Regions from separate parts of the Homo sapiens genome. Here region 2 is linked to region 1. Evidence: fine-mapped expression QTL. A gene starts in region 1. The other region holds a variant in brackets. All regions are shown on one strand. Distances are from middle to middle.

Evidence for each region. PIP is the estimated chance that this variant, and not a neighbour inherited with it, causes the effect.
Region 2: its variant is fine-mapped to the expression of ELK4 in tibial nerve (GTEx, PIP 0.93).

The regions. Positions count from the first base shown.
Region 1 is chr1:205,624,855-205,641,668 of GRCh38, reverse strand. ELK4 (ETS transcription factor ELK4) reads left to right here and starts at 9,658. Exons shown (of 5, transcript NM_001973.4): 1 at 9,658-10,037. It also overlaps the pseudogene LOC100420878. RefSeq lists enhancers at 9,271-9,580, 10,191-10,610, 12,614-12,883 and silencers at 9,751-9,900, 9,991-10,180.
Region 2 is chr1:205,599,924-205,612,028 of GRCh38, reverse strand. It overlaps SLC60A1 (solute carrier family 60 member 1), which reads right to left. Exons shown (of 10, transcript NM_181644.5): 10 at 9,111-11,623. The coding sequence ends at 11,568. ELK4 (ETS transcription factor ELK4) reads left to right here. Exons shown (of 5, transcript NM_001973.4): 5 at 1-4,086. Among named protein-coding and RNA genes, the nearest start is that of ELK4, 26 kb to the left of the region's middle. RefSeq lists an enhancer at 10,865-12,064. The variant C/T (reference allele first, on the strand shown) is at 5,622.

The DNA.
Region 1 (16,814 bases):
AGGAGAGGTTACAGGAATACAGGTTTTGGTAGGCAAAGGGTGAAGGGTTCTGCCTTGGAGGTTTTGGAACATGGGCTGGATAAGTGTTTGGTGCAGGGTTGTGAAGGAGATTGAAGCATTAAGGGATGCTTGGGCTACATTATTTTTAAGCACCTTTTAACCTTGAGATTCTCTGATATGAGGCTGTGGACAATGGTCAATTGCCATGAATAGTGGCATCTGAAGAGGTTGAATATGACCATTCATCCAACCAAACGTGTTGGTCTGTTGTGTATAAAGCGCTCTGTTCAACAAGAGATGCTAAGGTCCCCATCCCAAGTACAAACATGGCTGTAATACAAAACAGAATGTTACACAGGCTATAAAGAGGCATATACACCTCTCTTCCTCCTCTCCTAGAATACAGAAGAGATGGTAATAATACACAGTTTGGAGAGCAAGGAAAGCTGTCATGAAAGCGGTGACTATTTCATCATTAATGCATGGTTTAAAAAAAATTAGGCAGAACAGGCTGGGTGCAGTGGCTCATGCCTGTAATCCTAGCACTTTGGGAGGCCGAGGCAGGCGGATCACCTGAGGTCAGGAGTTCAAGACCAGCTTGGCCAACATGGCGAAACCCCGTCTCCACTGAAAATACAAAAATTAGCTGGGCGCAGTGGTGGGCACCTGTAATCCCAGCGACTTGGGAGGCTGAGGTAGATGAATTGCTTGAGCCCAGGAGGCAGAGGTTGCAGTGAGCTGAGATCGTGCCACTGCACACCAGCCGGGGCGACAGAGTGAGACTCTATTAAAAAAAAAATTAGGCAAAACAAACAGGTATGCTATAAAAGTGAGTCTCTAGTATTAATCAGGAAATTCTGACACCTGCTATAACATGGATGGACCTTGAGGACATTTATGCCAAGTAAAATAAACCAGTCACAAAAAGACAAATACTAATGATTCCACTTATATGAGTTTCCTAGAGAAGTCAAATTCATACAGTGCTATAAATGATTACTTATCAGTCTATTACCCTTAACTGAAAATGTCTTGTTGTTCTCTTTTTTTTTTTTTTTTTGAGTCAGGGTCTCACTCTGTCACCCAGGCTGGAGTGCAGTGGTACTATCATAGCTCACTGCAGCCTCTACCTCCTGAGCTCAGGTGATCCTCTTACCTCAGCCTCTCAAGTAGCTGGGACTACGGTCACATGCCACCATGCCCAGCTAAGTTTTGTATTTAATAGAAAGGGGGTTTTGCCATGTTGCCCAGGCTGGTCTCAAACTCCTGGGCTCAACTGATCTGCCCACCTCGGCCTCCCAAAGTGTTGGGATTACCAGCATGAGCCATTGTGCCTGGCCCTGAAAGCATCTTATATTCCTCTTTCTTAGCACAGTGCCTGGTGTATGGCAGGAACTCACAAAATATTTGTTAAATAAATAGGAACATTCCCACAGGAAGAACAATCACATCTAATGGGGTAGAGGTGGGAGGTGGTCAGGGGAAGCAGGGAAGAAATAACATTTGAGAGCTGAGTCTTCCTTGAAGTGGGAATTAATCATTCAAAATTTACTAAGTCCCTATTTTATGCCAGGCATTGGGCAAGGACCCATTGGATATACAGAGATGACTGACACAGCATTTAGTTTTTCAGAATCTCATCGGATAGAGGAGACAATCCAGGCTGAGAGCACTATATAAACAAAAGGCTGGAGTCCTGAAAATGCTTTATGTGTTTGCAGGGGATATAGTTTATGAAGGAGGGGATTAGGCTTAAAAAGAGCTAGACAGTGAAAGGTGAAAGTAGGGAACAGTGGAAGGTGATATGGCCTTTAAACTTTGCTGCTTACAGGTCTTTCAGGTTACAGTTTGAACTTGATCCTGGAAGCAGCAGAGAAATCAATCACTGGCTACTCTTAAAACAGCTGAGTGACACAATCAAATGTGTACTTCAGAAATTTTCCATGTGGCAATGTGGAGGATGGGCTGGATTGCCTTGTTATTGGGAGACAAATTAGAAGGCTACTGCAATAGTCCTAGCAAGAGATGATGACAGGCTGGGCACGGTGGCTGACACCTGTAATCCCAACACTTTGGGAAGCTAAGGTGGGTAAATTGCTTGAGGCCAGGAGTTCAAGACCAGCCTGGCCAACATGGTGAAACCCTGTCTCTACCAAAAAAAAAAAAAAAGCAAAAATTAGCTGGGAGTGGTGGCACACACCTGTAATCCCAGCTACTTGGAGGCTGAGGCATGAGACTCACTTGAACCTGGGAGGCGGAGGTTGCAGTGAGCCAGGATAGCACCACTGCACTCCAGCCTGGGCAAAAAAAGCAAGACTCTGTCTCAACAAAAAAAAAAAAGAGAGAGAGATGATGATGAGAGCCTTGGGGACAGGCATGAGGAACAGATTAATGTGAGATATTCTAGAGGTACATGCATCAGGCCATGGTGACCAATTGTCTGTGGAGGGTGAGGCAGAAGGAATTGTTGAGGATGACTGAGGTGTCTGGGTAACGCTTTCAACTGAAACTGGGAAAGGGGATCAACTGAAACTGGGAAAGGGTTTGGTGTGGCAGGTATAAGTAATGAGTTCAAGTTGTATATTCTGAGATGGAAGTGTCATGAGGACATTCAGGTGGAGAAATCCTGTAGGACACTGGAAACGGATCCAGAGTTCACAGAAGACAGGATAAAGGTTAGGGCTCATTAGCATCTGGGTGATGAACGAAGGCTTGGAGAGAATGGGGTCCCTTATGGGGAGTGTGTTGAAGGACAACAGGCCGAAGATAGAAACCTGAAGCAAGGACAGAACTTTCTTTCAGAGCTGGTAGAAGAGAAGTCCCAAAAGAGAGACAAAAACTGGTTAGGGAGATAGAAGAATCACAGAGGCCAAGAGAAGAGAGTGTTTCCGAGAGGGTGCCAGGAAGGGACAGCTAAGTCTGCTCTGGAGGTCAGGGATGTGTACCTAAGGAGGCAACATCTAAACTGGTCTTGAGGAACAGCCGAAGATGGCGAACGGGACAGTTCCTGAAAAGGGAATGTGAGATTTGGCAATCAGGATAGCTGTAGCCTTTACTACGGAAAAGTCAGTGGTGGAGACAGCAGACAGATTCAGCGGGCTGAAGAGTAAGCAGAAGGTGAGGATGGGTAGGCAGGAGATAGAAACCATTATTTTTTGAAGTTTGATACTAAAGAGAAGGAAAGGCTAATACTTGAAGGGGGAAGTTTTCTAAATGGGTGGGACTTGAGCATGTTTACTAGCAGAAGGAGAGGGAGGTGAGAGGCCGAACGTAAGAGAGGCAGTAGTGGGTGAAGCAAAGGCCGTGGAGAGGCAGACGAAACGGACTCCAGCGCAAGCCACGCTGCAAATCTCTATGCCAGGCAGTTTGTGCCTCTGAGCTCTGCCATGCCATTCCCTTTTCCTGGATGATCTCTTCAATAAACCTTTACTGAGCCACTCCTGGGGCAGGGATTATTCTGCAACTGTGCTGCAAAGGTAAACAACCTGGGCTCTCTTCTCCAGAACTCATTTCCAACACTTGAAGAGACAAGTAAGAAACTTCAAGTCAGTGTGGAGAGTGCTGCAAGGACCAGTACTGGACATGATGGGAGACACTGGAAAGTCCCAAACCTAGTTTAGGGTGTTAGGGGACTTCCTGGAATCGGGGACATCTAAGCTGAGCCCTAAAGTAGGAGACAGTCAGATGGGAGAGAGTAAAGAAGAAGACATTTCAGGCCAAATGCCTGAATACCATACCCTGGAGTGGTCAGGTTGGTTCTCTGGTGGGAACACGAAGATTCTCCTGATCTTCTCCTCCCTACTCTCAACACTCTCAACATTCGTAGTTTTTACCTCCACTAAATACTCTTTCCTATATTATAGTGATGTTACCCCTTTATCTACTGGAAACTTCTGAAGAGAAGAGACTGGTCTTATTTTTGAATCTCCTAAAGTATCCAGCACAGAGCTCAGCACACGGTTAATGCTTTAAAAATATTTTTTGATAAGAAATCTCAGGCCTAAGAATCCCTATCATGGCTAATAAATTCTCAGAGGGCCATTGGTAGGATTAAGATATAGAGATTAAAAAGGGAAAGAAAAAAGTATGCATAGGAAGAAAAAAGGGTCAGGGAACAAGAGAGAGACAGAGAGAGAGCTGGGAAAGAGGGTGGGGAAGAAGCAAAGAGACAGATAAAGTGTACACACAGTGGGGAGGGATCCACTTACAAACCAAATCTAGCCAGAATTCTTTGCTCCATGAAACCTTGTCTTTGGATATTTTCCATCATGGGGAGAACTCCTTATTCTCCCTCTGCTTTAGGGGTCTCCCACTGGAATCTGATTCATAGATAAATTTGGTAAGTTGCAGGCATCACAACTCCATCTTCTGAGAAGCAGGGAGAAGCTGAGAGAGGGAAAGAAGGGGAAAAAAAGCCTACAAAACCAGCAAGTTTCCCACTTTACAGAGTGAGCCTAGACAGAACTTGAATTTTCTTCCCTTGAGAGTTAGGAGGAAAGCTGGTAGCTGTGTCACACTCCTGAGTTGTGTACACGACTCACAAGCCAAATTTTCTAGCACAGCAGAACAATTTTGTTTTGCTGCTGGATATATAAAGCAAGGAAAAAAAAAAGATGGCATTCCATCTTTTTGAATTAGCACCAAGTCTTTCAAACTCCACCCTTTCCAGGAAATGTTCTTTAATGCAGTGGGAGGTGGTAATTTTACTCTCTCCAAACCCTCATTTTACTTCCCTCACAACACAAAACCCTGCTCAGAGCTGCACTTATATCTTCGTTTGTCAGCCTGACTGCCTCTCCCATCATTTCTGAATCCTTAGCTGAATTCTTTGTTCATGTCAACGGGATAGCAAAAGAATTCTGAAAATGCTGGAAGTCGTGGACAGCAATGATGGTCGCTGAGGGTGTCAGTGTTGCCAATTCAAGACTCAGAATTCCTAGAAGAGCAAATGCTCTTTGAGTTTCTTCTGTAATAACAGCATAGTATCATATATTGGTGCTTCCTTAATTAACTTTAATTGAAGAAGTTTTTTTTCCAGACAGTGATTATAAAATACACCAGAGAGGAAAAATTATTTTGGCTTAAAATTCAGAGCAATATGTATTCTGCAAGGAGCTGGTCCAAACACCAGAATCTTAAACAATTATACAAAAGGCAGATTTCATGAGCTTTTATCAATTAAGGAACACCTTTTCCAAAGGTGGCTCACGCCTGTAATCCCAACACTTTGGGAGGTCAAGGTGGGCAGATCACCTGAGGTCAGGAGTTTGAGACCAGCCTGGCCAACATGGCGAAACCCCGTCTCTACTAAATACACAAAGATTAGCAAGGCATGGTGGCACACGCCTGTAATCCCAGCTACTCAGGTGCCTGAGGCAGGAGAATCGCTTGAACCCGGCAGGCAGAGGTTGCAGTAAGTCGAGATCCCATCACTGCACTCCAGCCTGGGTGACAGAGTGAGATTTTGTCTCAAAAAAAAATTGATATATTCTCTCTTCTTTCTCTATTACATATTCCATATCAATTTTTATAAGTCTAGAAATAATACATTTATCAAAGACCAATAAAATTACTTGAGGTTAAAAATATTAAAAGAAAATAAGTAGACTGGGTGTAGAGATCAAGAATGAAAATTATATGAAGCTATTTTCTGACCTGTGTTTGTGACAGGTCATCAAACATATTAGACAGTTGCTATGCCTCAGGCGGTAATTGCAATAACTCATGTCTCGTCATGTCCTCTCTGAAAAAACAATGTATTGTGTGGAGATTACAGCTAGTCCTGAAAGATGTTGCCATGAGTTTACTTCACAGTCTAGAGGCCACAAGTACCTTGTTCAATGACCTTCAGATTGGGTTTTCTCCGGACCCTTAATACCCTCTGATTAAAAGCCTTATTATTGGGGATGAAACGTTTACTGGTTATATTTGGTAAAGTTTAGGACCTTAACAGGTAGTAGGGGTTGCCAGTGCTGCCAGATTCAATATACAGCTAGCCAGAGTTTTCTTTTCAAAGATAACTTTACCTCTATCTAAGATCTCAGTCCACACAAATATAACAGCAATAGGGCTATTTACCAAGAGTTCAAAGCATCATTTGATCAACCGCTTTTTTTTTTTTTTTTTTTTTGAGACGCAGTTTCGCTCCTGTCACCCAGGCTGGAGTGCAGTGGCACGGTATCAGCTCACTGAAACCCTCACCTCCCGGGTTCAAGCCATTCTCCTGCCTCAGCCTCCTGAGTAGCTGGGATTACAGGTGCCTGCCACCACACCTGGCTAATTTTTTTGGTATTTTAACAGAGATGGGGTTTCACCATGTTGGCCAGGCTGGTCTTGAACTCCTGACCTCAGGTGATCTACCTGCCTCAGCCCCCCAAAGTGCTGGGATTACAGGTGTGAGCCACCACAACCAGCCTACTGCCTTTTTCTTTTAGTCTATCCATTACAGACATGAAGTGAAAGGTATGTCTCTTTTATTTCTAAAGATGTTGAAAGTGAAACCCAGAAAGGGTAAGTCGCAAGGATTTTCTCAGGAGGTTCAAGTTTTGAGTTTAGGGAGACCCAAAGGCTAGAACCCAGATATCCCAGATTTTTATTCTTTCTTCTCAGTCATGTTGCAATTTGCTCCACACTTGTCCCCACCTGGGGTTGTGGGTGCTGTCTTTGACTTAAAAGATATCTCTTCTTAATGTCACGTGCTACAGGATATTGCTTGAAAGACGTAACAGGCAACTGGATGGCTCCATGCTTGCTTAGTCAGTCAAAAATCCGTGAAACACTTCTTTAGGAAAAAGGGATAGTGACTGGGAGTAATGATGAAGCAGTGAAATAAAGAGAGGGAAGAGGAAGTTGCCTTGAGAAGTAATGATCATAACTAGGTGTTATTGGGATAGGAAATGTAATTAAATTAGGGGCAAGGGGTTGCAGAGCTGAGTTAACTGCAGTGATTAAGAAAAAAAATCTAGGCCAGGCCCGGTGGCTCACATCTGTAATCCCAACACTTTGGGAGGCCAAGGCAGGCGGATCACGAGGTTAGGAGTTTGAGACCAGCCTGGCCAACACGGTGAAACCCCGTCTCTACTAAAAATACCAAAATTAGCTGGGCGTGGTGGTGCACACTTATAGTCCCAGCTACTCAGGAGGCTGAGGCAGAAGAATCGCTTGAACCCGGGAAGCGGAGGTTGCAGTGAGCCGAGATTGTGCCACTGTAACTCTAGCATGGGTGACTGTGTGAGATTCTGTCTCAAAAAAAAAAACAAAAAACAAAAAACAAAAAACAAAATCTAGGGCAGGCCAGGTAGAAAATACATATTTAAACATTTTAAGCCAGGCGTGATGGGTCACGCCTGTAATCCCAGCACTTTGGGAGGCCGAGGCGGGCGGATCACCTGAGGTCAGGAGTTCGAGACCAGCCTGACCAACACGGAGAAACTCCATTTCTACTAAAAATACAAAAAAATTTAGCCGGGCATGGTGGCGCATGCCTGTAATCCCACCTACTTGGGAGGCTGAGGAAGGAGGCTCGCTTGAACCCGGGAGGCGGAGGTTGCGGTGAGCCGAGATTGCGCCATTGCACTCCAGCCTGGGCAAGAAGAGCGAAACTCTGTCTCAAAAAAATAAATAAACATTGTAATAAAATCTACAAATTTTCTTTGGGATGGCTCTGAGTAACTAAGGCTAAGATCAGGAATCCATCTATCTGGTGGGAAAGTGACCAAACAAGATAACGAAAAAGCAGTCTTTTTGGTTGACCAACGTAACTACCATGGAGTTTGCACAAACAGAACCATCTGTTGTGTGAGGAACCATGGAGAGAGATTGTGTATTTATAGAATCTTGAGTGGGAAAACCAGGCACATTAATTAACTTTTCCCCTCAAGTTCTCTAATTAGAAATCCACTTTTCTTCCTTTCTCTTCTGTCAATATGTACCGCCTTAAAAAAAAGTCAATTTAAAAGCAGACAGATTTGCTATGACTAATTTAAGAACTCCCAAAGCAGGCTGTTTTCCAAAAATACACTGCAATTGACAATGCCGTAAGCTCAGTCTAAAAGGGATATGACACAACTACTGGCCCTAAGGCCGAATCAGATGTTTACTGCCAGTTTGAACAGAGCAGCGTAGTGTGCAGATCTCCACAACCCTTAACTGTTCTTGGTAGGGGGCTTTAAAATGAAATCTTTTTATAAACAAATGTTTCCAATAGGTGTATCCTAAACAGCCTACCTTAATACTTTTTTTTTTCTTGGTTTCCAAGATGGAACTTGTTGCAAGGAAAATTTTATGTTAGGGGCCAAGACTGCTAGTGCTTTTCAGATACTGCATGTTCCTTATAAAACATGTCTTAATATGTTTGCATGCTTTGGTAAAACTAATTTTGGAAAGGTAACATCTTTTGGTAGAGTTGTTTTTACAGGAATAGCTACCTTTGTGGATTATAATTACTCTGTATTATGGAAGAGGAGGCTGGAAATCAAGGAAGTGATGATTCTCTTCCAAAAGCCTACAAAAGGATGACAGAATCACATTTCACTCAGTGAGTTCAATTAACTATACATTCAATTGTGGGGGCAAAAATAAATGACACCACGATTTACTGGGTATCTACTATGTGCTAGGTAATGCACTAAGTACATTATGCTCTATACTTCATTTAATCCTCTCAGCAATGCTGCTCATTATCGTCATTTTACATGAGGAAACTGAGGTCCAGAAAGGTTAAGCAACTCACTACAGGTCACACAGCTAGTAAATGGCCTCGAATAACCAGTAACTCAGACACTGACCTCTCTTTGGTTTCTTGTTAAACAAACACCTAATTTATTTCTTGGAGGTTTTGTTCAGCTGTCCTAATTTATGACTTTACATTCCTTCTGGTGCTAAACTGCTCAAGTAGCCTCTTGTATCAAGTGTGACCTGATTCCTTAAGAATTTTACTTAATGAGAACCTCTAAGCTAGAAACTCTTGCTAGGTGTTTCATGCACCTTATTTTCTTTAATCATTACAACAACTCTAAGATTGGGTTCTCTCCACCTTATAAATGATGACTGTTTTAGAGAGGTTAAGGTTGCTTAAAATTGGTGAGTTAGTGAGGGGTAGAGCCACGAATGGATTTCTGGTCGCTGCCTCCATCGTCAGGGCAAGCTTTTCCCACGACTCCAGCGCTTCCATTTGTCAGTCCCCAGGCTAGAAAGCCACAGTGCTAATTTAGTATTTATCAAGCGTTTGTAGTGTCCTGGGATCTGGCACTTCGATGAGAAAGCTGTGACGGCCCCAACTTCTAACAGCGAGTGGTAAGGAGGACGAGGGACACAGGAGGGAGGAGACTCTCCCCAAAGCTTAGCACCAACAGAAGTGGTCCCCCGCAGGTTGCTCTGCGAGCGCCACCTCTTCCCTCCAACCGAGGAGAAAGTGGCGCGCCTTTGAGGAGTCCGAGGTCCCGGCCCAGGCGGCAGCTTGGGTCCTGGCGGGTTCCGGACGGGCGCCTCAGGGACCTGGAAGCAACCGCACCGAACGCGACGGAGAGCGGCGAGACGACTCCAGGAGGCGCCCGAGCTACATCCCCCGGCCACACCAAACCCGGGTTTGCTGGCAGACGCGGCTCACGACACCCCTTAGGGTCGCAGCCCCTCCCCCGGAAGTGACGTGTAGCGACTACGGCGTCTGGGAGGGACCCAGGAGCAGTCGGGGGGTTTGAGAGTGGCGGCGGCCGCGGAGGGCCTGGCAGGCCCCGCCGCTGCAAGGAACGCCCCGAACGCGCGCGCCCGGCGTGTAGCGGCCCCAAGACCCGCGCCGCCGCTGCCGCGTGCGGGGGCGGGGAGGGCGGGGCGCCAGGAGCCGCGGCGGCGGGAGATGCGGGCGGCTGCGGGCACCCGGCGGGCTCGGCTTGGCCGCCGCCGCCTTCTACGGCTCCGCCGCGGGGGTCGCAGCGGCTGCCGCGCCGTCCTCGAGTTTCCAGCGTGAGGAGGAGGCTGAGGGCGGAGAGGCGCATCGTGTTCGAGGCGGAGACCGAGGGGGAGCCCCGCGCGCGGCGTCGGTGAGCGGTCAGCCCCGCGCGCCCCCTCGGGATCTCGCGGCCACAGCCCCACCGGCCGGGAGCGGGGGCGGGGGCCGAGGGGCGCGCGGCACAACAGGAAGTGGGGGCGGGGGCCGGGGCCGGGCGCGCGCGCTCCCCTTGGGTCCGCCCCCGGCCCGCCGGGCACCGCGGCGCACAGGTGGACGCCGCAGCGCACCGCTCAGCTCTCGTCGCCTCTTGGTCCCCCGAAGTCTCGTGGGCGAAAGGTGGCGGCGATTTTTTCGGCGTGGATGGGGAGGAGGGGAGCAATTCTCATTTTCTGTAGTGACAGGAAGTTGGAAAATGAAAGTACAGTAATTCAGTGCTTACCAAGGCCCGGTGAGGTTGCACCTCTTCCCCCAGACTTTGATCTCCTGTAGGGCACACGCGGCCGTCCGCGTTTCTTCCTCTCCCCTAGCTCGCTAGTCATCCGGTGTCGAGTTTCATTTCTTTTTCTCTTTCGCTCCAGCGGCCCCCCGCCCCTCTTTACTTTCCGCCTTGTGCACAGCTGCATCGAGGCTGGTAACTTCATTCCTGGGAAGATCAATTGGAAACATCTTTCGGGGCGGGATAGTAACTGGCCTTGGAAGGAAATAGGGATGTTGTTGACTGAAGTAGTCAAAAGTACACACTTCACTTTTTCTCCAGCTATTGCTATTTGAAATTTGGGGAATTTAAATAAAGATTCTGGAGTTCTATGCCTCATCAGAATGGTTTGTCCATCTCTTTGGTTGATAGATCAGATCCTCTGTCGTCTTTTCCCACCCCCTACACCCCCTGGCTTGGAAAACTTGGTGCTTCAATATTTAGGTTTGGCAGCGGTGTTTTCATTAAAATGTAGTATGATTCAATATTTTCCCTTCAGGAACACTCTTCTCTTTGATTTTACTTAAACATTAAAACTGCGTAAGTGGAATCTGTTCATTCCTAGTGAGGTAGTGTCTTTAAGTTTTATTGTAAGAATATTGTAAGAACTGTGCAGGATCCTATACAAAGAGTATTTTTTAGGAGCCTGTGTAGTTAAAAACGTCATGTTACTTTTGGTTACTTTTTGACAACGGTGAGTATTTTGATTCGAAACTAGGCTTGATACATTCATAACTTGGTTTTTTAAGTAGCAGGCTGAAGAAAATTTGGAGACTTTGTGTTTTTTTGGGTCTTAGCTACTGTCTCTGAAAAATAGTTGGGCTATGGGTCACCACAGCAACTGGACTGTGTGTATTATAAACATGTTTAGGGTGGAAAAGGTTTTATTTAATAGAGACTTCCTTTCCTTAATACATTACTTCAACATGCTCCCTTTCAATTTAGGACAGGGATTGGTCTATCTTTGAAGTGTTAAAATAGAATCAATTATGTTTTCAGCCTTTACCCCCTCAAAAATCAAATACCTTCATTTGGACCAGTTAAGTGTTTTCTTCCTTTGTTATAACTTTAAACTTTAAAAATTGCAATTGTGGAAAACTCGGGATTCCTGTAAGAAGGAAAATCAAGTAATTAGCCTCTTTTTTTTTTTTGATAGGTAACAAGAATAAAAGGTTTTGTTTGGTTTTGTTTTGTTGTGTTTTTGTTTTTGTTAGAGACAAGGTCTCACTCTGTTGCCCAGGCTGGAGTGCAGTGATGTGGTGTCTGCTCACTGCAACCTCCATCTCCCGGCCATTCTCCCACCTCAGCCTCCCGAGTAGTCACGCACTACCATACCCGGCTAATTTTTTGTATTTTTGGTAAAGACAGGGTTTCAACATGTTGCCTAGGCCAGTCGTGAACTCCTGAGCTCAAGCTCCCCCCTTGGCCTCCCAAAGTGCTGGGATTACAGGCATGAAGCAACCACATAATTTTTAATAACTGTCTTAGGGGATTTTTTTTCTTTAGCTTTTATTTTATTTATTTATTTTTTGAGACAGGGTCTTGCTCTGTCGCCCAGGATGGAGTGCAGTGGTGTGATTTCAGCTCACTGTGACCTCCGCCTCCTGGGTTCAAATGATTCTTCTGCCTCAGCCTCCCTAGTAGCTGGAATTACAGGTGCCCACCACCACGCCCAGGTAATTTTTGTATTTTTAATAGAAACGGGGTTTCACCATGTTGGCCAGGCTGGTCTAGAACCCCTGACCTCAAGCGATTTGGTCTCCCAAAGTGCTGGGATGGTAGGCGTATGCCACTGTGCCCGGCCAGCTCTCTTTTATATCTGATGAAATCATTGAAGATCATTGTTAATACCACACTTTTTGAAACTAAAATGAAGAGTTTTGACTTAACTATGTAAGAAGACGTTGGCTGCTTTTCAATCAAAAGAATAACGATATCATAATTGAATTAATAAAATATTCCTTTAAAGTACCCAGTGAAAATGTCCACTTTATATCTTTTTCTCAAAATTCATTTCTAATACTTCAGTCTAAAACCTCAAAGCCATTTTTTTCTTTTCTTTTTTTTTTTTTTTTTTGAGACGTAGTCTTGCTCTGTTGCCCAGGCTGGAGTGCAGTGGCACGATCTCGGCTCACTGCAAGCTCCGCCTCTCGGGTTCACGCCATTCTGCCTCAGCCTGCCGAGTAGCTGGGACTACAGGCACCCGCCACCACGCCTGGCTAATTGTTTGTATTTTTAATAGACACGGGGGTTTCACCTTGTTAGCCAGGATGGTCTCCATCTCCTGACCTCGTGATCTACTTGCCTCGGCCTCCCAAAGTGTTGGGATTATAGGCGTGAGCCACTGCACCCGGCCAAAGCCATTTTTTTTTTTTTACTGTCCTCAACCTTCTATCGTAGACACACTGTAGTTGCTAAATAAGCATCAGCATTTTCCACAACAGCTCGGTTCTACCTTAAAGCAGCCAACAGCTCACCAGTGTTTGACTAAATACATGCTGCTCCACTGATAACCAACAGGGAAGGTGCAAGTTAAACCTGTACCATCTGGGGAACACCTGTTATTTTGGGGAGTCTCCTTGGGTGCTCATTATGGAGACGTTAATTTGTTGTTTTTGTCTTTAGATGTATAGCTGAGGCTTTAAACTTGTAGGGCTGAAATGTTATCTACATAATAGGTATTAAGACTCTAGGATCCGGGTGTTGGAATTTTTTCAAAAACAAATGGAATAATAGGCACCACATCTGTGTAGGCTAGAGACTCCCATTCTCTGTCTTTCCTTCATCATCTCACGAATGGATTCATACTCCACCCCTATAAGCAGTCTTATATGAAGGTGATGTCTGGAAATGTGGAAATTGAGTTCTTGGCTTAAGATAACATTTACTAGAGAGTAGTTTTAACAGGATTAGATTAGAAATAATTGTTTAAGTGGGAAAACTGTAGTAGAACGGTAACTTGCCATCATTAGGCATCATCAGAAGAAAGGCCTGTCAGGTAAACTCAAGAGACATAACAGGGAATCCCTGCCTGCTTCCACCATACTTAATGGCCGTAGTATAAAACCGCTATTTTAGCCCCGCTTAAGTGAGGCTATGGGGAACCGATTTCTAGCGGGCATGGTTATTTGGCATTAAGGTAGCACTTCATATTTGTGGATTATTATCGGTATCTAATATGTAATGCTTTTTTACAATCAATTAGCGATATGAGTGCTTTTATTTATTTGGAAAGTGGTTTCCCTAATGGACAGAGTACATGACTGTGATGAAAGAGACTTGGGACTCATGGCCTCAGCTTTTCCATGAATTCTGACTGTGGGCAGCATCTCTCCCTTTCTATCCTTTATTATTTTCCCATCGTTACTTTTAGGTGACTGTCTCTGTACAACCAGCTTCAAAGTGATAATCGTGAGGATTACTGGAGGACATTTTGAGTGTTTCAGAAAAGTTATAGAAACCCAACTATTTTCCACTACAGTTTCTTATCTCTGCCCTTTTTGGAAGTAGGTATAGTTGACCCTTAAGAATCCCATCTTCTGTGAGTTAAATGTTGTTAGAATTAGTCTTCCCAGACCTAACTTTTATAGTGTTTGTTGTGTTGTTTGTTTTAAAAATCTTTATTGAGATATAATTCACATACCATAAAATTCACCTCCTTAGGTGTAATATGCTGTGGGTTTTGTGCAAGCATGAACACAATCTAAGTTTATAATATTTTCTTTTCTTTTTTTTTTTTGAGGCGGAGTCTCGCTCTGTCACCCAGGCTGGAGTGCAGTGGCGCAATCTCAGCTCACTGCAAACTCTGCCTCCCAGGTTCACGCCATTCTCCTCCCTCAGCCTCCTGAGTAGCTGGGACTACAGGCGCCCACCACCACGCCCAGCTAATTTTTTGTATTTTTAGTGGAGACGGGGTTTCACTGTGTTAGACAGGATGGTCTCGATCTTCTGACCTTGTGATCAGCCCACCTCGGCCTCCCAAAGTGCTGGGATTACAGGCGTGAGCCACTGCGCCCTGCCTAAGTTTATAATATTTTCATCACCCCCAAAAGAAACCCTGTACCCATTTTCTATCATTCCCCACTTCTCTTCCCCGCATTTTAGCCCCCAGTCCTAAATAATTACTAATCTATTTTCTGTGTCTGGATTTTCCTATTCTGGACATTTCATATAAGTGGAAACATACAATATGTGGTCTTTTGTGGACTGGCTTCTATTAGTCACTTGCATAATGTTTTCAAGGTTTGTCCTTGTGTGTGTGTGTACCTCATTCCTTTCTGTGGCTGGATGATACCCCATTATGAATGTGCCACATATTATTTATCCATTCATCAGTTGACGGACATTTAGTTTGTTTCTACTTTTTAGATGTTATGAATAATTCTGCTATGAACAGTCCTGTGTAAGTTTTTGTATGGATGTATGTTTTCATTTCTTTTGGGTATATACCTAGGAGTAGAATTGTTGAGTCATGTATTAAACTTGTCCAAAGTGGCTACACCATTTTACATTCCCACCAGCAATGTACAAGGGCTTCAATTTCTCTGCATCCTTGCCAATATTTGTTATTGTCTGTCTGTCTTGATTATAGCCTTCCAAGTAGGCATGAAGTGGTTTCTCAGATGGTTTTGATTTTTAGTTCCCTAATAACTAATTATGTAGAGCATTTTTTTTTTGGTGGTTTCTTCTTTATTGATGTGCCTCCTACCTTCCCCTTGCAATTTCAGTCCCTTCCAACTACCCCCCAAAAAGGTAGTAAAAGGAAGGGATTGCTGGGGTTCTGAGCCCCTTGGGCAGTCAGAAAGGGAACAGAAACTGAAACAATCACTGGATGTGACAGAGACTGACAATCAAGAAGTCTAAAGCAGAATGGGAAAGGCGGGCAGAGAAAGGGGAAGAAAGGAGAAAGGAGAGGTACGAGATGCCAACTCCACCATTACCCCTCCTAAGAGAGGCTGGAAAGAAAGCCTCAAACATTAAGAAGTGCCGGTCCTGAATAAGGGAGGTGGTGTTTGAGCTTGGAGGAGGAGGTCAAGAAAGGGAGGCCACCTCTCTGTAGAATGAGACCCCCCTTCCAGCTCAGGGGTAGCAGCATCACAGACTGTAGACACTTTGGTCACTGTAGGCAACGTAGAGAAAGAAGTCTTCATGGTGTTCCTGGTAGAGCTGACCCATTGTGGCACTGGTGGGCAGAATGACATTGTTGACAAAGAAAAACAAGGCATCCTCAGCTCGGAGATGAATTCGCTTCTGGATCAAGAAGTAGAACTGGGCCGGGCGCAGTGGCTTATGCCTGTAATCCCAGCATTTTGGGAGGCCAAGGCAGGCGGATCATGAGGTCAGGAGTTCAAGACCAGCCTGACCAACATGGTGAAACCCCACCTCTACTAAAAATACAAAAATTAGCTGGGCGTGGTGGCATGCACCTATAATCCCAGCTACTCGGGAGGCTGAGACAGGAGAATCGCTTGAACCCAGGAGGCGGAGGTTGCAGTGAGCCCAGATTGCGCCACTGCACTCCAGCCTGGGTGACAGAGTGGGACTCCATCTCACAAAAAAAAAAAAAAAGAAGCAGCAGCAGCAGAACTGACCAGCTGTGAGATCAGAAGGCACCAGGTATTTCTTTTGGTCCAGGTCTCCTATCCGAGCTTTGGGAGCCTTTTCTACTATCACCGGCACCCGGTCCGGGTATTTCTTTCCAGTCTTCTTGCTCTCGGAGCCGCCCGTTTCTTGAACGGATGCTCTTCTTTGTACACGAATTTCATCCTGTTGGGAACCCGGCTGAACTAGGCTGGGCTGAAGGAACCTGGGGGAGCCGGGAGGTGGGTGGCAGTGATAGTGGCGACAAGTAGGCAGATTCAGCCAATGTAGAGCATTTTTTCGTGTGTTTATTGGCTATTTGTATATCTTCTTTGCTATGATGTCTTTTCAAATTCTTTGCTTTTTTTTTTTTAGTCGTAGGCGTTTTTTAATATATTTTGGATGCAGGCTCCCTTTGTGATACATGGTTTGAAAATATTCTCCCATTTGGGGGATTGTCTTCTCACTTGATGGCATTATTTGCAGCACAACAATTTTAAATTTTGTTGTAGTCCAGTTTTGATCTGTTCTTGTAGTGTTTTAATGGTATTGATATAATTTGTTTTCAAACTCTATTCTAACCCATTGAGATCTCATTACTAGAGAAAGGAAGGTTTTTTGTTTTTGTTTTTTTTTGTGTGTGTGAAGTATTCAATCATAAGATTCTTAGGACACACTTATACGGATTTGGCCAGAGTTTCTGCCCTAAAGAATTCTTCCTAATAGAAAGGTGTTTTGAAATTGTATGAGGAAAATACCTTTATGAGAGAGCATTCCTTGCTGCTCCTTTGCCTAAACCAATGGTTATCTACC
Region 2 (12,105 bases), 27 kb after region 1:
ACTTATGTTATATTTTACCAACAAATTTAGAATTATTTCAAGTTGCTTTATGTTAAAATATATAACAAGTTACATTTTCTTGCTGCATTAATAAGTTTTTGATTTTTAAAATCTGATATTTCAGCAACTAAAGGAATACTTTTCTTTATAGGTCTGTTCTGTTTTTAACCTCATTGACTGTATATGTTTTATTTACCCGTGCCAGGAGTCTAGAATCGTGCTTAGGTGCCATTCTTAGGTATGAAAACAAGTTTGGAGACCAATGCAGGTCTCTGTGCAGAAATCTGGGGCTCTAAATGAATTACCAAACCAATAGGAAAGTTAAAATACTACTCATGATGTAGTGTGTCATCTGAAGCTATGATAGAATATATTATTTCTAAAATAGTATTGAGAAGTTAATTGTTCAGTCCATAGTAGTGTAAGTGAAGTGTGGAGGTCAGCCATAGTTGTCTTTCTTCAGCAGGTACTCTAACCAGAGACTGGGTTCTGTGGAAAATAGAATTATATTCTTGGTTTGGGATCAACAAATGTTTTGTTATTGTTTTAATGTTGCTGGCATTGCCTGAAACAAAGTGCCCTGTTATTCCTCTTATGTCATCAGAACTCTGCTTACTGAAGTTGAAGTTTAATCTTAGGATCTAGAATTCTTGTGGTTGGTCGTGTATTAAGAAAAGAAGGTGGTTTGATTTTATTTCTTGTACTTGGTGGAACCTGTTACTATACAAGTCATGTTTTGACCTGTAAGCCGAGCAAATCTGAAAGGTGAATCGTTAATGGTAGTATAATTGTTTCATTTGAAACTGTCAGTTTCTTCAAGTCACTTCTCTGAAAAAAATTATGATAGATTGATAGCCTGCCAGAAAATAGCAATTTCTAAGGTGCTGCCATCCACACTTACTTATTGTGAAATATGAAAATCCAGAGTGGTTTGTATGAGAGGGGAAATACTGGCTCTAAGCTTTCTACAGAAAACAGGAAATTCATGCTGTTGTTGACATAATTTTAAAGGAAACTTTTAACAAGAAAATTCATGAGGGATACAATCAAACATAGTTAATCTCTTGAGTGCTAATCATTTGAGTATAGTCCACATCAGGAAGTTTTATGAGGTTGAAAACTTTACTTTGAAATATTTAATTGGGAGACTAGACCATTTCTTTTTCCAAGTCATTCTGATTTATTGTCCTAGTAAATGTATGTGTATGCATATATACTGATGTATTGACTGAATGTGTGTGTGTGTGTGTGTGCGCGTGTAAATCTGTTTTCATAGGGAACATACATTGATGGCTCCTAGTCTATTTTATACTAAAACTTAAAAAAATTTGCTGCACTTTGCAGTTGCCACTTTTTAAAAGATTAATGCTTTGCACATTTCAGTAGGCCTTAAAGATGAATTGCTCACCAACATTTTAGAAATACACTGCTTACATGTGACATACTCTAAACAAAGTCATAGTAAACTGTTCTCTTAGGTTCATGTATTATTGAGCAAATAAGGATGTCCTTTCTTAAAATTTCTACATTTATGTTTGCTTTTGTGTAAAATCTTTATTAGTTTGTAAGTTTCTCAAAGAGGAGGTTTATACTGGAAGCAGTATTTCTAAAGTACAGAGATTCGACCATGGATTGAATACAGTAGTGGAGGAATGCTGGTATTGTGGCCTAATTTATCCTTTTAAACTGTATGTCATTAGTATTAGCCAAAACCTCAGAGTGGAGTGTCTTGGGCTGAATGATCTTCTCAACTTTGCCTTGTTTCCCATCTCATAAAGGCTCCTTCTGGTTCTTTTCCCTTCCAAGGATTGTGAGTCATGCTCACATAGGCCTGGGATCTTCTGGATGGGGTCGGGGAGGAGGTGGGGGTTTCCTGTGGCTGGCCCAGAGTTCTAGCCAATGGAATCATTCAAGAATGCCTAAAGTTCAGGGGTGGGAATGCCATATATTGGTGTTAATCACTTGGCACTTTCTTGGGCACCAATATTAGCACTGTTTCATTTTTAATAACTGGAAGCACTTAATGATTATTTTGTTTGTTTAATTTCAACTTAAGGATATTGAGGGTCAGAGAAGTAAGGTTTATTTCTTGTTTATGTTTTCTGGAATTTATAGGGTGTTTGTAGAAGGGATAAATGGGTTACCTAATGAGCCATTCTTCTAGGCTCTGTAAGGTATGCCCTTTTGGCTAGGATATTTTAAAATAATTTGCAAGCTTTTAATATTGTGCTTTGTAGAAATTTACGATTTTTAAAAATAATTTGCAATTGATAGATTACACTTAAATTTATAAAGTATCCAATTTTAAGTTTCTTTTCTGTTTGGTCATTGTTGCTTATTGTCTATTGTGTAGGGGACACAATCCTGACATTTCATTGTTTTGTTACTTGGGGCAGTATTAACCAGTGGCCTTTGTATGTACATTCATTGCTTACATTTATTGTTTAAGTGGTAGAGTAGCATTTTTATGAACTTCCCTGTTCAGTATTAGTGAAATTGACAGATGCGTATATGTAAAGATAGAAAAGAAACGAATACAATTAATTTTTTATTCCTTGAGGCCTATTTATTTGTTTTGGCCCTGGATCTTTTCTAATCACAATTATATTTCTTTATTTTTGCCTTTGAGCAGTTTCATTTATCTTTGTGGGCAGGGAAGATTAAATATGAAATTCAGTCCAGTCATTTTGCTACTGGTTAGCTTTAGTTTGAGGCAAGTAAAAATTTTTGATTAAAATTAGTTTCTTAAAATTATGCCCTTGCTTTACCAAATAATCAAATTGGCTAAAAAATAAGGGTATGTAACTTTGCATTTTGAAGAACAAACCAATAATTTTTCATGAGCCCTACTCGATCTTCTTTAAAGAAGACCTTCCTAAGAGACAATTAGGGATGAGTTTGATTAATGGGAAATAGCTCTAGGTTAGATTATTTTAAATTCCATACACCAAGTGATTTAACCACAGTGGCAGTGGCAGTTTCTGAACCGTCAAGTATGAACATCACTTAAAAATTAAAAGATGCTTAATAATAAACTCTTAATTTTCATTAAGCCAATCTGTAATTCAGAAGAAAAGCATATGTCTGCCATGGGACTATTGCAGTGCGTCTCCATCAGTGTTAACACAGGAGAGATATGTTATTTTATGTGTATGTCTTAGTTTGGGATATGTGGTAGTAAGAACATGTCAAGAGTGCTTTCTTCAAACCTGTCAGCTCAACTGAGAAGACAGTTACTTCATTGCTTATTTTTTCCCTTGTTTTATTGAAATCTGTATCTCATATCCAGTATCTAACACTTTGTAGAGATACTTACATATAATGTAAGTGCACACCTACCCAGAGGAATGGATAACTGTTAAAGTGTTAATAATAGCTCGTCTTAGTTGATTTCAGCATAATTTACATTAGGGAGACCTAAAAAGCACCTTCAAAGTATTAAAAGCACCTTTTTTTTTTCTTTTTCCTAAAAAAGCAATTAAAATGGTCACTGCTAACATTTATTAAACTTCATGTTAGTTGATGAAACAGCTGGAGGGAAGCTGCCACATCTCCTAGCTAAGCAGTCTGACTTACCTGTTGGGAAACAAAGGGATATTGCTCTAAGATTGATTAGGATGATTGTAGCTAGAGTCTTGAATTCTATCTGTATACGGCAGAGAAACTTTATAGAGTGTAGAGAGGTGAGCGAAAGGATGCAAAAGCACTTTGAGGGCTTTATAATAATATGCTGCTTGAAAAAAAAAATGTGTAGTTGATACTCAGTGCATCTCCAGACATAGTAAGGGGTTGCTCTGACCAATCAGGTGATCATTTTTTCTATCACTTCCCAGGTTTTATGCAAAAATTTTGTTAAATTCTATAATGGTGATATGCATCTTTTAGGAAAGATATACATTTTTAAAAATCTATTTTATGTAAGAACTGACAGAGGAATTTGCTTTGTATAATGCAGGCTGGCTTTACAAAAGCACTGTAGCAAATTTACTACAAGTCTAAAAGTATACATATATGTTAATAGATATATGTGCAACTAGATATGGACAGCAGTTGTATTTTTTTAAATAAATATTTTTAACAAAATGATTTTCTGAATTGATTATTTATTCCCTTCTCTCACATTCATTGAGGTGGTCTCTTTACAGTCTCTGTATTACATTTTCATCCATGCTAACTGTGGGTCAGGAAAGAGTTGTTTTCCCAATGGCTATCATTAAAATCTGGCCTTCAACAATTTGATATGTATCTACATTAAAATATTTAAAGTCTAGATTCAGATAGGTGGTGAACAGGGGAGATTGTAAAATGATTGTTGACATAAAAGGAATTAAGAGAGAACTGAGTGGCTAGAAAAAATATTCACCATGTGAAATCTCTTTTTGTTTTACTTGAAAAATAAAGGGTTTTTAAAAATTTAATCAGCTGGGTGCAGTGGCTCACACCTGTAATGCCAGCACTTTGGGAAGCCAAGGCAGGTGGATCACCTGAGGTCAGGAGTTTGAGACCAGCCTGGCCAACATGGTGAAACCCTGTTTCTACTAAAAATCCTCCCAAAATTAGCTGGACGTGGTGGGGTGTGCCTGTAGTCCCAGCTACTCGGGAGGCTGAAGCAGAAGAATCGCTTGAATCCGGGAGGCAGAGGTTGCAGTGAGCTGAGATCACACCACTGCACTGGTGTGATCATGGGTGACAGAGCAAGATCCTATCTCAAAAAAAAAGAAAAAAAAATCAGAGGCTTTTATCTAGCCCTTGTAAAAAGCAATGTAGACTTCACTTAGCAAATGAAATTAGGCTTTTTTAGAATTGGGTCAAAATAATATACATAAGGGAAAGTGGGTTGTTTTGTTTTGAGACAGAGTTTTGCTCTTGTTGCCCAGGCTGGAGTGCAATGGTGCGATCTCGGCTCACTGCGACCTCTGCCTCCTGGGTTGAAGCGATTCTCCTGCCTCAGCCTCCCGAGTAGCTGGGATTACAGGCATGCGCCACCACACCCGGCTAATTTTGTATTTTTAGTAGAGACGGGTTTTCTCCGTGTTGGTCAGGCTGGTCTGGAACTCCTGACCTCAGGTGGTCCGCCCGCTTTGGCCTCGCAAAGTGCTGGGATTACAGGCATGAGCCACTGTAACCAGCCCAAAAGTGGGGTTTATAGGTGGCAAAATGACAGCAGAGAGCTGTTTTCGTATCTCTTAATGAAAATCACAGGAGGATAGAGTGACAGATTGTTCTGGGGCAAAGGGGGCAGTTCACTACCCTGGTGAAATGGGTGAAATGTCACTTTGGTTGGTGGGTCAGTCAGCATGTGGAGCACAGTGAGGACTACTGCATGCTCCTAACACACTGCTCTCAGAGTATCAACTGCGACGGTAGTCCCACGAGGTAAAATCAGTTTGGGAAATGGGTTCTTCACGGAAATTCAAAAGGAAATTTCAGAATATGAAAAGTGCCAAGTCCTTCAGTTAAAAAGCCTGTTTAGGCTGGGCGTGGTGGCTTATGCCTGTAATCCCAGCACTTTGGGAGGCCGAGGCAGGTGGATCACGAGATCAGGAGATCGAGACCATCCTGGCTAACACGGTGAAACCCCGTCTCTACTAAAAATACAAAAAATTAGCTGGGCGTGGTGG[C/T]GGGCGCCTGGAGTCCCAGCTGCTTGGGAGGCTGAGGCAGGAGAATGGCGTGAACCCAGGAGGTGGAGCTTGCAGTGAGCTGAGATCATGGCACTGCACTCCAGCCTGGGCGATAGAGCGAGACTCCATCTCAAACAAAAAAAAGCCTGTTTAAGTCACCACCGTTTTCTAACCTTTCTGACTGTTGACACTTATTTTGAGAAGCCTACCTGTTTTGCAAGCACTTTCTGTGTTTTATAGGTGCGTTTAATGACAAACTAATACCCTAATATTGGGTAATTTTCCAGGGTTGGCATTATCAGGTAGGAGATAATAATTAACAGTTAGATGATTTCACATTGATTGTTGCTACAAAACACTGTACTAACTGGACGACCGACCCCCTGTAACTGCAGGGAGTCTATGAAAGTGACTTCATTTTATTAAATGAAACAGGAGTGGGCCGGGCGCAGTGGCTCACGCCTGTAATCCCAGCACTTTAGGAGGCTGAGGCAGGTAGATCACCGGAGGTCAGGAGTTAGAGACTAGCCTGACCAACAGGTGAAACCCTGTCTCTACTAAAAATACAAAATTAGCTGGGTGTGGTGGCGCGTGCCTGTAATCCCAGCTACTAGGGAGGCTGAAACAGGAGAATCGCTTGAACCCGGGAGGCGGAGGTTGCAGTGAGCCAAGATCACGCCATTGCACTCCAGCCTGGGCAATGAGAGTGAAACTCCGTCTCAAAAAAAAAAAAAAAAGCGCAAACTCAAACAGCTGTGCCAGTCAGCTGACAAGCATTGGTGTTAAGGAGTCCATTGGATGGTTCCCATGTTTTTTGTTTTGTTTTGGGGTCAACCGTGCTGTCACCCAGTCTGAAGTGCAGTGGCACAGTCATGGCTCACTGCAGCCTCAAACTTCAGGGCTCAAATGATCCTCCCACCTTGGCTTCCCAAAGCACTGAGATTACAGGCATGAGCCACCACCATATGTTTTGAATATGTCACCATAATTAACCAAAACTATCTTCTTTGGTCAAGGTCATATTGCCTTACATGTTGCCACATCTGGTGGTTGACATTCGGTGTTCATTGGACCTCTTGGCAGCACTGATTACTTAACTCCTTCTTGAGATGCACTTCATGTGCCCTCCAGGAAACCACATTTTCTCCTGAACTTCCTATTTCTCTGGCTTTTCTCATGTGCGCTGCTGGGACTTGTTCTTTTTCTAAAACTCTAGATGTTGAAGAATCCCAGGGCTCAATCTGTCCATCTCTACATTCATTCCCTAGCTTGTGTCATTTTAGTCCTATGACTTTAAATACTTCTTTATGTGACCACAAAATTTGTATCTTCAGCTTTGACTTCTCTTTTAAACTCTAGACTTCTATATCTAACAGCCTTCTTGACATCCAAGATTGCATCATAAGATGATCATGTCCAAAATAGAACTCAGAATGTCTCCCCATGGCCTTCCAGAGTTAAATGGCTTCATCATGTACCCAGTTACTTAGGTCAGATTCCTTCAGGTCATCGTTGATTCTTTTTTGTTTGTTTTTTTGAGACGGAGTTTCACTCTTGTCACCCAGGCTGGTGTGCAGTGGCGTGATCTCACTTCACTGCAACCTCTGCCTCCCAGGTTCAACCGATTCTCCTGCCTCAGCCTCCCGAGTAGTTGGGATTACAGGCACCTGCCACCACACCCAGCTAATTTTTGTATTTTTAGTAGAGACAGGGTTTTGCCATGTTAGCCAGTCTGGTCTCGAACTCCTGACCTCAGGTGATCCATCTGCCTTGGCCTCCCAAAGTGCTGGGATTACAGGCGTGAGCCACCGTTCCCGGCCCATCCTTGATTCTTATCTTTCTCACACTACACCCAATCCATCAGCAAATTGTCAGTTTCACCTTCAAAATATTGCTTGAATCCAATCACTTTCACCACTTCCGTTGCTATCTACATTTCCAAGCCACCATTATTTCTTCAGTCTATTGCAGTGGTACCCAGGTGGTCTTCCCAATTCCATGCTTGCCCCATAGTCTCTTTTCCATAGTAACCAGTGATACTTTAGATATGTAAATCAGATCGTGTCGCTTGCCTGCTCACAACTCTTCCAGTCATCTTACATCACTCCAAAAAACCTCTACACATACCATGGCTTGTATGATCTGGCCTCTAGCAACCACTCCCACTTGTTCCGTTTGACTCTTCCTCACTGCAGTTGAGCCACACCAGCCTACTTGCTGTTCCTCCAATACCATAAGCATATTCCAGCCTAAGGCTCTTGTACTTGCTGTGCCCCCTGCCTGATGGGATGTTTTCACGTACTTGGATAGCTTGGTCCCACGTATCATTTAGTTTTCTACACAAATAGGACCTCCTTAGAAACGCCTTCCAGAGCATCTTTTTTTTTTTTTTTTTTTTTTTTGAGACAGAGCCTCACCCTGTCACCCAGGCTGGAGTGCAGTGGCACAATCTCAGCTTACTGTAACCTCCACCTCCCAGGTTCAAGCAATTCTCCCACCTCAGCCTCCCCAGTAGCTGGGATTACAGATTACAGGTGTGCACCACCAGGCCCAGCTAAATTTTGTATTTTTAGTAGAGACAGGATTTTGCCATGTTGGCCAGGCTGGTCTTGAACTCCTGATCTCAGGTGATCCGCCTGCCTCAGCCTCCCAAAGTGTTGGGATTACAGGTGTGAGCCACTGTGCCTGGCCCTAGAGCATCTCTTGACATTCCCTATTCCCATTCCATACTCCCTGTATGTTTCTTTATGGTGCTACATTACCCCTCACCCTGTGGCATTCCCATATCCTATTCCATATTCCCTGTATGTATGTTTCTCTATGGTGCTACATTACCCCTCACCCTGTGGCATGTTACGTGTAGTATTTGTTTGCTGTCTGTATGTCTTCACCTGCGGTATAATCCTTGTGAGGCAGGGACTTCTGTCTCAGTCACCACTGTATGTCTGTACCTAGATTAGTGCCTTGAACATAGCAGGTGCTTAACAAATCCTTTTTGACTGAATAAACGAAATTCACTCTAAAAGAACTCTATGTCACTGTGTCTTCTTTTAGTGAATCCGATGTGCCTGATGGGTTAGATTTCCATATACAAGTAGCAGAGGAAAATCTGGGAACAGGGTGATTCCACAGGATTCTGAAATGTCCAAATTCCTGAAAGGAAGATGAGGAAGAAAGTCCTACTTGTGTAACTGAGAAGCGTGTGGTGTAAGAATCGACCTGCCTTTTCCTTATTCCTTATTCTGATTTTATGTAATAGGGAATAGTGGCACTTAGCCCTGCTATGAGAGGTTATTTATTTATTTATTTATTTATCTTTTTTTAAAAAAATTCAGAGTTTCCCTTGTGAGACAGTTTTCTTTCTTCTAAAATATAAGCCACATTAACTTATTAGTATGAGAGAGACCTGCCTCTGGGGAACATCAGACCATTTGTTTCTGAGTGTATGCAAGAGGATCAATTGTTCTTCATAATGGATAACACACTTAATAAGTTTAAATATTTTATTTTAGGAAAGGTACTCTTAGATTTGTGTTAATGTTGTTTTCTGTATTAACAAATTAGTCACAATCAACTTCGATATAGCCATTGATTCTTCTTTCTAAATCTGTATAAAAAGGATATTTTCTTGAAAAACCACAAGAAAAATACAACTGCTTTTTCATTGCCCAGGTCAGTTACTCGCTACAGTCAGACTGCATTTAAATTAGACTGGCATCTAATACTTTTGAGTATTTACAAATATAATTAAAACTATACTCCTAGACCACCAGCTTTCAAAAAAGTTGGATCTGCTTGACTTGCAATAAATATGTACCAAACATGAATAATTTCTAAGCCGCTTATGAGGAGGTTTTAAAAATTACTAACATTTATTAAGCAGTTTGTGTGTCAGGCATATTGTGAGTGCTTTGCTTTATACAAATTCACTTACTTTTTTCAGAATTCCTTTGAGGTAGGGTAGGTACTTTTAGAAATGCCATTTTACATGTGAAAAGTGAGGTTGGAAGAGCCTCAGTAACCTGCCCAGGGCCACACAGCTAGAAGGTGAGCCAGCACTTGAGCCACGTTTCTCTTTCCAGCCAGATTCTCAGCACTCAGCTGTGCTGCTGGTGGTCACAGCTGGCTGACTGGACCAGGAAGAACCTTTTAGTGTCAGGCGTGTGAATCACAGCACTTGGGACAGGTTACCAAGAACCATGATCACTTAATTTTTATATTTATACATGTACATTTGTATATACATAGAGAAAGTGCAGGCAAAACCATTATACAGTTACTCTAATAGCCATTTGCTACTGCCAGCAGTCTCAGGACTGATCCCTGTCTAAGCTGGCAAGTTTACATTCTCCTTGTATCACTACAGGATTTGCTCTGGACAGGAGCTGTAACTCCTCAACAAATCCTGCTTTCAGTCTACTACTGCACAGCTTGAATTGTTCAGTAGGCCCAGCTTTTTGTGAAAGAAAAGGCCTTGCCATGGTATAAAGAGTTTTTTTCCCTCTATAAAAGATGTAAAATTTTTGGCTGGGTGCAGTGGCTCACGCCTGTAATCCCAGCACTTTGGGAGGCCGAGACGGGCAGATCATGAGGTCAGGAGATCAAGACCATCCTGGCTAACACGGTGAAATCCCGTCTCTACTAAAAATACAAAAAATTAGCTGTGCGTGATGGCATGCGCCTGTAGTCACAGCTACTTGGGAGGCTGAGGCAGGAGAATCGCTTGAAACTGGGAGGCGGAGGTTGCAGTGAGCCGAGATGACGCCACTGCATTCCAGCCTGGCAACAGAGTGAGACTCTGTCTCAAAAACAAAAACAAAAACAAAAAAAGATGTAAAATTTTCATTAGGTATTTTCAGAAAGTCTTAGTGCTGTTTCTATACCTTTTATATGCTAGTCAATGTCAGTAGAAAAAAATGGAACATCCATTTCATTCTCCTGGGCGATTTCTGGACCAGTTAGCCTTGATTACTAGCAGTGGTATGCTGGTAAATGTTTAACCACTGGCTCTCCGGGATCTGTAGCTTTTGCCAGTGTCCATGGTAATACTCCCACCAGGCTGATTTCAAGCTACCAACATGCTATCACGAAGAGTGGAGTTGAGACAAGGTGCACAGTAGCACACCATCATATATAGTAATTCCACCACACAGGTACCATGGACGTAAATTACCTCAAGAGCATCAAGATCAAATTAGGAAGTGATATGCTTTGAATATTTATTACCTTTGTTTTAAATGTAATTGATTTAATTATAAGTTTGTATGATTTGATTTTTAATAATGGCTGCATTTAATAACCAGCTGTCAAAATGAAAATTTTACAATCAGCTTTTCTAAGTTGGTATGAGCCAGCTTAGCATACCACTACATTAGTATACCAAAGAGAGCAAGATTCAACTTTTCCTTTTGGTGTTTGAGAATATAGATAAGCTATTGATGTCTGCAGCAGGAATTTAAGAGACTTTGGACTATTAAGTGAAAAGCACGAAAATCCTTTGAGCATGCCAGGGAATAACTTGCAGCTTGTTTTGCTTAAATTGAAATATATCTACATATAGCAATGATCATGGAGCTTTACAATTTCAACCTATTTTTACAAACTTCAATGAAGAATGATCTCAAACCCAGAGTATGGTCCATGCATGAGGTGACAAATGGAGTGAAGCGCGCGGCTGTCTCCTTCCTTCCCATCTGGGTATCTGGACAGCTCTTACCAACAGTCTGAACCAGGGAAGAAGATAACTTGAGAAGCCAGGTAAACTTCTAATGATTTTGACCAGGTACCAGGACTCAATTTAATTTCCTCTACCCAACCAAGTTTTAGTGGAGAAGACTTGAATAGCCATTGAGAGAGCGCCTCCACCACCACCCAGCTTTCTGAAACAGTATGGTCGTGCTGGTGATCAAGAGGCTGAAAGTCTTCTCTTGCCTTCTTCACCCAGTTTTACCTCTGGTAGCACTCAGAGTTTTCCATTCCAATTGATCTGTCTTGGGTAGGAACTACAAAAGAAAAACAAAACAGGTAGCATGTTTCAGCAGCTCTGATGAGTTGCAGTGATGATTCATTCTGAGAGCTTACCCAGGCTGTTTGTTTCTCTGCCATTCTGTGGCTCTAGAGGGAGCAAAGTGAAAAGTCAGACCCCCTAGTTCTGGCGAACAGTTGGTGGAGGCAGTTTCCTGAGACTGCTGTCTAGGGCTTGGGGAATGTGTCTGTCTCCCATGAATAAGGAGCCCATTAAGTGTTATTCATTTAATGTTCAGCAAATATTAATTGAATGTAGGTCTTAAATGAAACTCCTGTGTGTGTGCAACCAGTACTGCTGTCTCAGAAGTGAGGCTATAGTTAGTGCTGTTTTGGGGGCCACCTTTCCTTCTGGGCCTTTGTACTGAGCGTTTAGAGCGTAGATATGTTCACCCACTGAGAGCGGATGGTGAATGCCTGTTCCTTTAGTCTTTTTGTGATGATTTTGCTTTTTATAGGG